Regions from separate parts of the Homo sapiens genome. Here region 1 is linked to region 2. Evidence: fine-mapped expression QTL. Tissue or cell type: monocytes. Region 2 holds a variant in brackets; the other region holds the start of a gene. All regions are shown on one strand. Distances are from middle to middle. Region 1 holds the start of MVB12B (multivesicular body subunit 12B). Region 2 overlaps MVB12B (multivesicular body subunit 12B).

What was found. PIP is the estimated chance that this variant, and not a neighbour inherited with it, causes the effect.
Region 1: MVB12B starts here. The variant in region 2 is fine-mapped to the expression of MVB12B in monocytes (CEDAR, PIP 0.95).

What each region holds. Positions count from the first base shown.
Region 1 is chr9:126,323,371-126,328,864 of GRCh38, reverse strand. MVB12B (multivesicular body subunit 12B) reads right to left here and starts at 2,036. Exons shown (of 10, transcript NM_033446.3): 1 at 1,855-2,036. The coding sequence starts at 1,935. RefSeq lists an enhancer at 819-1,470 and a silencer at 1,912-2,051.
Region 2 is chr9:126,411,674-126,416,673 of GRCh38, reverse strand. The region is part of intron 6 of MVB12B (multivesicular body subunit 12B); the gene reads right to left. Among named protein-coding and RNA genes, the nearest start is that of NRON, 3.7 kb to the right of the region's middle. RefSeq lists an enhancer at 394-986. The variant A/CACACACAA (reference allele first, on the strand shown) is at 2,856.

The DNA.
Region 1 (5,494 bases), 88 kb after region 2:
GCTGCAGTGAGCCATGATGGTACCACTGCACTCCAGCCTGAGTGACAGTGAGACCCTGTCTCAAAAACAAACAAAAACCAAAAAAAAAGCAGACAGAAAGAAACTCTAAAAATAAATAAATAAGCTACTCCTCTCATTCATCCGTTAACAAACCTCTCATAATGACCCCTACCGTTTACTGACTTCTTGCCATGTAGCAGGCACTGAGCTAGACTTTTCTTGCAAAATTTCATTTACATCACGCCATAATCCCATGAGATGAATACTATCATTAGTTTCACTCTACAGATGAGGAAACTGAAACTCAGAAAAGTTCAATAATTTGTCCAAGGGCACAAAGTAAGTAGGAAAGCCAAGACTTAAGCTGAGGGCTAATTCTAAACTCCCTGCACATAACCATGGCACAACATTCCAGTTGGAAGTGGTAAAAGGTCCCTAGCAGGATGGAGACAGGGCAAGAAAAATGCCTTGAACCTAAATTAGGAGTGTGACCTAAAGCCTAGAAGGAAGGAATGAAAAATATGGATTACAGAAGGTAAGTTTAGGTTTAAATGAACCAGTAATCGCCACGTCAACTGCTTCCCATGGGGCTTGGAGCCCGGGTCCCAAGCAGAAGCCTCATCTCTCTGAGGCCCTATTTAAAGATTCTGAGCATGGTACAGTATCTCCAAGGACCCCACATGATTTCTAACAAGCAAGAAAGGTGTCACCATCTACTGTAACTAAACATCCTAGCACATTGAGTTTTTCAGTTAGTCAAGGCTTCACAGAGCTTATTTTTTAACTCTCTAAGCTTTCCTGGTGCCGCTGATAAGATTTCCCAGCCCTGTTAAAACGAGATGAGATCCAGCCAGCTGTCGAGAAATGTACAATGAGATTATACTGAGAAGGAACCACGAGAGACAAAGGCCCCTAAGAGGAGCTGGTCTGCTGTCTGCTTTTGTGGCAGCAATCGGAGTGGGCTCTGGTTCTTGGGTGGGGGCAGGAAGCAGGGAAGGGGCAACCACCATTTGCCTTTTGCCCTCCTGTGGTCTTCCTCAGTGCCTTGTGCAAGAGGTGTTGAGGGGCAGGGAACAGAAGAGTCTCATCTTTCATGGTGAGAAGGGCTGCTGATTTAGAACAGTTGTGTGTTGGTAACAAAGAGGACAAAAGATGCTCTTGGGTCTACCCCGTTCCCTGGTGCCTGCCTCTGAGGATGTGATGTCCCCTGGTGCCATGCCTCAGCTCTTGTCCCAGCCCCTGCTCCTCCCGTCTCGCTGGTGTTGGAGTCACTGTAGGGTGCTCGACGTGCCCACCATGTTCCTGGATGGGTGCTCTGGGTCTCGGGTACCCAGGCTGGGCATGTCACCTTCCAGACAGGTGCCTGAGGGTTTAGGTGTCCTCTCTGCTGTGCCCAGGTCACAGAGGCAGTGATGCTCCTGGGGCAGGTGCACGTTGGTCTGCACCCACGTGACCAGAGAGAGCAGGACCCCAGGCCAGGCCGGTCAAACGATTGACTGTTCCCAGTCTGTGCCCAGGTGGGCCGCCTCCCTCTCACGCGGGCAGAGGTGGCTCTCGGCGCCCCTCACCTGCCCGGGCCTTGGGGGCGCTGCTGGCACTCGGGTCCCCCAGCTTCTCCCGCCTCTCGCCGCCAGGCCGAGCCCGGGCACCGGCAGCCGCGGCGCGCTCGGGGCTCTGCAAAGGCCGCCCGGGCCTGTCCCCGCCGCGGGCCGGGCACGGAGCCCGCAGGCCTCGGCGCGGCCCGGCTCCTCCCGTCCGCCCGCCCCTCGGCCGGGGGCCCGCGCCCGCCCGCCCGCCCTCCCGGCTGCAGGGCCGGCTCCGCCGAGCCTCCGCGGCGCCCGGGCCTCACTTAACTGTTCCCCGCTGGGGCGGCGGCGGCGGTGGCTGCGGCGGCGGCGGGTCCCGGCTCCGTCTCACGCAGAAGCAGCTTCTCATCGCCCGGGCGGCGCGGGAGGGGCCGGGCCCGGGGCCCAGGCGGCAGGAGCCGGCGCCGCAGCTCGAGCGCGAGCCTCACCGAGAGCGGCGGCGGCGGCGGCGGCGGCGGAGGGGCGGGGCGCGGCCTGGCGGCGGCGGCGACAACGGCAGTGGCGGCGGCGGCTCCCTCCGCGGGCCGCGGCGGCGGGCCGGGCTCCGGGCCTCCCGGCGCTGGCGCTGGTTCAGGATCGGGGGAGGCGCCCGGCGCCCGAGGCTGGCTCGGGCGGGAGGAGGGAGAGGGAGCCCTGGCGTCCCGAGCCCGCGCCGCCGCCCCGGCCGGCACCCCGCCTCCCCAGCCTCCCCCTCGACCCAGCCCGTCAGCCGCAGGCAGGGCCCCGGTGCGCCCACCCGGGCCTCCCCGAGCCCGCCGGCGACCCCAGTCCAGCCTCAGGCCCCCGGGAGCCCACGGCCTCTAGAGCCTGGGGCATCGATGGTCCCCGCCCCCAGGCTGGTCTTTTCCAGGGACCCTCAGCCCACTTAGCTCTCGTAGGCCTCGCTGTACGCAAGACCGGTCTTCCGCTCGGCTGCAGATCCCTGGAAGCCCCCAGGCCCTCAGGCTAGAAGTTGGACCCTTCTAAGGACTCTCCGCCCACCCAGCCATTCTAGGCTTCACTGAACCCTAGAATCCTTCAGCTCATCTTCCCCCACCCCCCAGCTCACCTAAGGTGAGCTCAGCCAGTCGTCTCAAACTAACCCCAATTGCCTAGCAATTCTCTTATATTAGTTAGATGATTTATCCCCAGAAGCCTAGAATCAGGTTTATGGGGCCAGCCTCAGGCAAGCATCTAGAAGAAGTTTTTAGCAGGAGTCCTACCCTGCAGTACTTGGGGAAGGCATAAGCCAAGGATAAAATGGAGCTGGATGGTTGGGGGAGGGTCCAGAGCTTGACCCTCAGCTAGAGTGGCTGGTAGGAAAGGCGGACTCTGCGCCTTAACCAACCATGCCCCCCACACCGCCCAGCCAGGCACCCCAGGCAGAGGCCAGCGTGTGCAAGATTTGAAAGGTTTCCTGCCAGGAGGCTGGAGCATTCGTTAGGACTTGAGGACCATGCAGGAGTGATCAGCATTGATTTGCTAATGCATTGAGTCTCATTTTCACACATTCTAGGCTTTTCCATAATAGCTGTTTGATCCTAAAGAGAAGGGTGCCAAGCAGAATGGGCTGTCGGGGGAAACATCCTGTAGGGAAGCCATGCACGTGTGCATTCCCAGTGTCTTCACTACTCAGAAATGCCATGGGTTCAGATGGCTTTACAGCAAGCCTTATCCTCCCATCAGGGCACAGATCATCCCTATGTTACTTAAACTGTTACACAGGAAAAAATAAACAAAAGAAACAAAAATTTTTATTTCATTTCCCAAGTTTAGCATAACCCTGATACCAAAATCCAACAGACAATACCAAAAAGAACTGCAGATGACTAACCTAGAACACGAGTCCCCAGAGAATTTAATATTTATTTTTTGAAAATGGGCTTCTGTGGGCAACTTGAGAAAGTGCTGCATGCCGTTTATAGTGTACCTTTTGGAGAATCACGATAAGTATTCGTATATTAAGGAAGGCCTCTGTGAAGTCCAGGAGTAAAGAAACCTGTTTGGTTTGTTTAACCTGGCATTTCCCAAACTCATCTGAGCCAGGACCACCTTCTAAAGCTCACTGATAAATCCTCAATATGTGAATCTGCACTATATATTTAAGTATATAATAGTCGTAAAACTATTAAATACAATTTTAGCCATTTGAATCCAGTTTACTATTAAAGCAACTGAAAACCCACCATGATCAAGCAAGATTTATTCCAGAGGCGCAAGAAAAATCCAACATTAGGGAATTTGTAAATGCATTGCATTGTTAAAGGAAAACAAATTACAGGATATTATCAATGGGATAGATGCTTTAAAAGTATTTTATAAACTTCAAAACTAATGACCCATAAATTTCTAAAAACTCTTAGTAAACTATTATAGGAAGAAAGTTTAAACTTTTAACATGACAAAGTTTATCAGAAGCCATCAACAAACATATTTAATGGTGAAACACTAAAGGTATTCTCATGTAAGTCAGTCAAAAGGATGCCTGCTATAATGGCTATAGAATAAAGCCAATGCAATAAGATAAGAAAAATAAATAAGAAATATAAATATTAGAAGGGAAGAGATAAAATTGTCATTATTTGCTTATGATTTAAGTGTTTCCCAAAAAGTAAAAATAAAAAAAATCAACTAAAAATCATAGAGACTTTGGTAAGGTGGTCAGTTATAAGATAAACACCAAAATCAATGGTTTTCCTAAATGTTAAGGGAGAAGCCTTCTCCTTCCTTCTTCTTCTTCTTCTTCTTCTTCTTATTATTATTATTATTATTATTATTATTATTCTTTTTTTTCTTCCTTACCCTGTCTTATGGTATTGAAGGGAGAAGCCTTCTTTTCCATATAGAGGGACTTCCATTAGAATAAGACTTCTGGCCTCTCTCCACTCTAAGGGAAGATGAGTGAGTTTGGAAAAAGTGGACAAGAATAGATGCTTCTGAGTTCTCTTTTTGGATTTGGCTGACTGCAGAGAGCAAATATTTCCATGCGCTCTCACTGTGGGTTAAGTGAACCTGTTTCAGGGACAGAGTGATACTATTCTCCTGCACCACCCGCCACTACACAAATAAATCTACTCAATTCAGGGAGAAATATAGCAAGCCCACTTAGCTACAGAGCAAAAGCTACTTTTTCCAGTCAGCTTCATTAAAAATTAAGGTAGTATTTTTGTCTTATGTCTCTTTCCTGTGTCTATGCCCCAGTTTGTTCCAAACTTAGAATAGGGAGGGAGGTATTACTTACAGAGACCTCCAAATACAACACTAAATACCAGTTATTTCCATTTAGGAAGTATGATGGAAAAAAAGCATATTCACATTAGCAATGAATACTATAAGGCATATACTAGGCATAAGCTTAACAAGAAATGTGAAGGTCCATGGAAAGAAAACTACAAACCTGACTGAGGGACATAAAAGAAGATCTTAATAGTCGGAAAAATATAACAAATCCCTGGGCAGGAAGTCTCAACAGTGCAAAGATGCTGTGTCTCCCCAACTCACTTTATAAATTTAGTAAAATTCAGATCAAGAAACCACTATGATCTGAGGGGTGAGGTGAGATGGAACATGATGAAATTATTTTAAAATTTACCTTGATTGGCGTGAGTGTGTTGGCTCATGCTGGTAATCCCAGTACTTTGGGAGGCCAAGGTGGGAGGATTGTTTGGGGCCAGGAGTTTGCGACTAGACTGGGCAACATAGTGAGACCCTGTCTCTAAAAAGATTTTTTAAATGAGCCAGGTATGGTGGTGTGTGCCTGTGGTCCCAGCTACTTGGGAGGCTGTGGTGGGAGGATTGCTGGAACCCAGGAATTTGAGGCTACAGTAGGCTATAATCACGCCACTGCACTCCAGCCTAGGCAACAGAGCAAGATCTTATCTCAGAAACAAACAAACAAACAACAACAAAAAAAAACTAACAAGAAACTT
Region 2 (5,000 bases):
GAAGAGGTCAGTCCATGTGTCCTCCGGAGGTGGTTATCGCTATGTTAGAGTTACCCCGATTCAGCTTCACTATCGGGTATATAAAATGAGACTACTCAATCAGGGCCACAGGGTCCCTCCTGAAGGCCCTTTTGAAATCAGTGATGCCAGGGACATGACATCTCTGCCGCTCACTAGCTCAGTGATCCCGACAGGTTACAGTGAACTATACAGAGCTGGATGACCAATGGCCCGATCGCACACCCAGGGAGGCAAACCAGTTGTAGTGGTTGAGGGCAGTGCCCCCGAGTCCGCTGGATGTGGGTCCAAATCCCAGCGCCAGCACCAGGGAGTCACATGGCCTTTGGCAGGGGTGTGTTGCCTCCCAGGGCACAGAGGGCCACCATGCAGGCAGGGTTGACAGCACGGAACCAGGCATGCGTGAGCACATGCAAGTACGCGAGCTTCAATCCTACTCCCACTCTCCCCATTCTTGCCACCCCGGCATTATTTTAGAGTCTGGCTCATGAGGGCCTCCATGCAGCACCACAGCAGAACCCACGGGGCCTTTCCTCTGCATCAGGATGAAATCCAAACCCGCCCACGGCTGAGAAGTGCTGCCAGCTCTGGCCCATCCCTCCTCTCTGACCACATCTTGTCCACCCTCCCTGCATTCACGTCTGCCAACCTCAGTAGCCGCTTTTGTTCCTCCAGCCTCTGCTCTTGTTCCTGCCTTAGGGCCTTTGCACTTGCCACTGTCCCCAGATCTCAGCGGCTGGCTTCCCTCCCCAGTCAGGCCACCCTTCTGAGGAGGCACCCCGCCACACTCTTATAACACCTGCCTCCTCCCTGTGGCGCCCTTCCCACTCTATCGGGCTGTCTGACTTGTTTTCATGTCACCAGAACATGATCTCCACCACACCTTTTCTTCCCACCACATCCCCAGGGGCGAGAACAATGCCCAGTACACAGTGAGCGCTTAACAAATATTAGGGAAAATCCTCTAAGATTACCTACTACTTGTTGATCTGATTCTGACTTATAATTAGGGATAGTTTCGGGAAACTTCCAGGAAGCCTTGTCTCTTCTCTCCTTCTCATCCCCACGACTGGGTTGGTTAATGGCTTGGAAAATGCAACTATTTCTGATTCACGATATTTTTACGTAAACAATAAATTCATCACGGCACTACTTATAAAGCCAAAAACTAGAATCAGATGAACAATCAAACAATGGAGGACTGGTTAAAAAATTGTGGTACCACTGTTTCATGAAATATTTGGCTGTCTTTTAAAATATTTTAGAAGACTCTTTATTGGTCAGTGCCTATGCCTATGACCACAGCATCCAGTGTCTATGGACTGGCATCCATAGACAGAAAGTCCTTATTTTCATGCTTGGAATCGTGGTCAGTTAACCCAATACTCTTTGGCTTCTTTCCCATACAAAGGCCTCTGGTTCATGAGAATAAACAGGTTGGATTGTCTAAGGAGAGACTGAAGGAAGGCCCCGATCACGACCCTGTACCTGGAGGAGGGAGGAAGCAAGAGATCAGGAGCTGCACTAGGCCACTGGCATTGGACACTCACCTCTTCTGCAGCTCCCAGCCAAGGGAGTTATAAGAATGAGTAGGTACTCGACAGCATCAAACAAAACCGAGAGGCCGGCTGGGAGTGGGGGCTCATGCCTATAATCCCAGGACTTTGGAAGGCCGAGGCGAGTGGGTCACTTGAACCCAGGAGTTTGAGACCAGCCTGGGCATCATGGTGAAACCCCATCTCTACCAAAAAACAAACAAACAAACAAACAAAAATTAGCCAGTTTTATAATCCAGTCTCAAAATAAATAAATAGATAAAAATTAAAAAAAAAAACCTGAGAGGTCCACGAGAATGATGGTGGCTGGTGCACTTATGGACAGCAGTTTCAGTGGAGTCATTTTAGTGGGCCCGAAGTTGACCACTCTGTAGGCAGATCCATGAGTTTAGATTTTAGGAGAGTTCATAAAGCTCCCCAGCAGACTGAGGAGAAGGAGACTCAAAGGCTCGAGAAACTGTCTCTACTTAGGATAGTGCCAGGAGGTGAAGGCCTTCTGGCACCTTCCCCAGTAGGTCTTGGACCCCTGGAGCAAGGGCTGTCCATCAGAGGACAACCATGTCTGCCACTTGACTCAAATGATGGATTATTATTCCAAAATCTGTTTGGTCACTGGAGAATTGTAACTGGAACAGTCCCTAAATCCTCGGGGAGTGTTACCAAGCTATCCTCCCCTTCCCCCTGCCCACGGAACTGCCCGGAGGAGACAGGGCTCTCACCCTGCTGCTTCTGGTGGCCATCACGTCTCTCTGCAGGAGGGATTGGCTGTTCTGTAACAAACAGGTCAGCAAGCACGCACTGCCAGCGATGACGGCTCCAGCTAAATACATGCTGAGGGGAATTTCATTTTTTCCCCCAAGTCAGTCTTAGGCACCTTATTCAATTAACATGGCCACTAAGCTGCAGACAGCTCCATATAAAAGCCCTTCAGTTATAGAATATATTTTATTATGAGACAATAGTTGCCAGCACGATTTATTTCCTTTGATGGGATTCTGCTTTTTCCTTGTTAATTTAAATCTGTATTTTCTAGTGCTGATTCCAGGTCTGTGTGAATTTTTAAAATGTTACCATTAATCTTGTAGACCCAGTGGCCACATATAATGAAGATGGTTCTGCCCAGGCAGCTGCAGTGCCTGCTGTCCTCCCAGACTGTCAAAGGGCAGCGTCGAGAGAGTGGTGACTAGCAAGGCAGAGGCGCACTCATAGTCAGAGGCACCTGCCACTTTGATCTCCCAACCCTTATACACACACACACACACACACACACACACACACACA[A/CACACACAA]CCAATGGGGTTCACAGGATTCCAGAAAATGCAATGAAAAGAGGATACATCCTGGCAAATACTGATGGTGACTTCAGACTTTTCCTCTGCCATACTAAATGCTGGAAGACGACGCAGCCAGTTTTGAAGGTGAAAATAGTTGTGATTCAGCAATTTTGTATGACTTCAAGTTGTCTTTTGTGCAGGAAGACAACAGAAGATTACTCATGTCACCTTCTCTAGGAGAAACACTTAATAATACATTCCAGATGATTCAAATTTAATACTTAAGAAAGGGGAAGTAATGCGACAAAAGGACCAGCATTTATTCTTCCCTTTTTGAGATTTGAGGAAAGAACCTGAAATGTGGGAAATGACCTATTTAAGAAAATTTAAAAATATCATCAGTTGACTTGTTTACAGCGTGTACCTGTCATATGCATCTTATGATCCCTAACCCAATCCTACGGCGAGTTGCTGAGACCCCCCCTACTCCACAGGTGTCTCAGAGAGGCTCCACAGCTTGCCTCTCTGCTGGATACAGCTTGGACTTGAACACAGAGTATGCAGAAGCTTGGATTTGAATGCTGATGGGGCCAATTACACAATTCATGCTCTTAATTATGACGGTCTACTCAAAAACTGGAAATAATGTTACTATGTCTGACTCAGAATATTATGCAGACATAAAATGATGTTTACAGGCTTTGTGGAGAGGGTTGGAGTGAGATGCTCGGGATCTGTGTATGGAATATGATCTCAGCTGTGGAAGGAAAGGACAGGAACCAGGGCCTTGGGGCAGCATTTGTCATGGCAATGAACTGGGAGCAGCCCAATGACCATCAATAAGAGGAGGCTAATAAAATGTGGAATTTTCATATAATACTAAAGTAGGACAGAACGAATAGATGAAGAGAGCCAGAGATTTTTCTGTAGAAATGCCCAACTCCCAAAGACTGGCTGTTAAGTAAAACAAAACCAAAAAACCAGCCAAGCAAAAACAAAGTTGCAGAATGATGTATTATAAACAATCCCATAAGACAATCTTTTTTCCATGGGCACACACGGCTAAGCTACAGTACAGCAAAGGGCTGGAGGGAGTAACTTAGAGGTGACTGAGGGGCAGGAGAGGCTCACGGTATTGACGACAGAAGCCTCTAAGATGGGAGTGTGGATTCTCCCCACTGCTCTTCCATATGTTTTAAGTGTTAATTTTTTTGGATGAGAAATTATTTCTTTTAATCAGAAAAAAAGATGGCAAAAACTAGGGGAACACTTCTCAATGTGGTTGGGAGAGTAGAAGAGACACACGTATGAAAGCATCCAGCGTGGTGGTGCTTGGTGCTGAAGGGACACCTTGTTTTCTATATAATGTGTCTGCTGGTGGACAAAGACCAGAGGTCATGTACAAAGGAGAGGAATGGATTGTGGGGGCAGCAGAAGAAATATGAAAAGCAACAAAAATCAAGTTAAGATAGGAAGGGGAAGAAGAACACAGCAAATGGCTAAATGAAATTCCACATTATTCCTGCAAACACCACTGGGAAGAAGTCATCTGTGACGCACAGCTTCTGTGCCAGGTGTAAGGACGTGCTTAATGAATGCCATTTAATGAAGAAAAAGGCTCTTATAAAACACCTGGCACAAGCAGGGTGCGGGAGTCACAGAGAAGGGGACCTTTGCTGCACCTGCTGGCATTTTAATAAGCACCTTCTAGAGCGCCCGCTCTCCAAGGCTGGTCAATGGTGTCAGAAAGAGGTCCCTGACCATTGCCCACACTTGCTGACAGTTTGGGGAACCTTATTTCTTAAAGACCATATGCTCAGGTATCGGATCACCCTGGAAGGTAATTAAAATGAATCATTTTCAGCTGGAAGGGCCTGACTAACACTCGAATCCTCCTCAATGACTTCACAGCCAGGATTCCTGCTCCAAGTCCCCTGTGTTTCCCAAGTGAGGCTCTGAATTACGATTGAGATCTGTGAAGACCCAGAGATGTGAGGAGATATTGTAATTCTTTCTTGTAACTTGTTTCCGCTAAAACAGAAAGTCAGTTATTTTAATCACTCTAGGCTCTAAAATATTTTCAGTTGTGGTTTTCTTTTCATATTGATTTTGGAGCCAACCTCAGGGAGAAACCACCATGCGCAAAGTTTACTATCATTT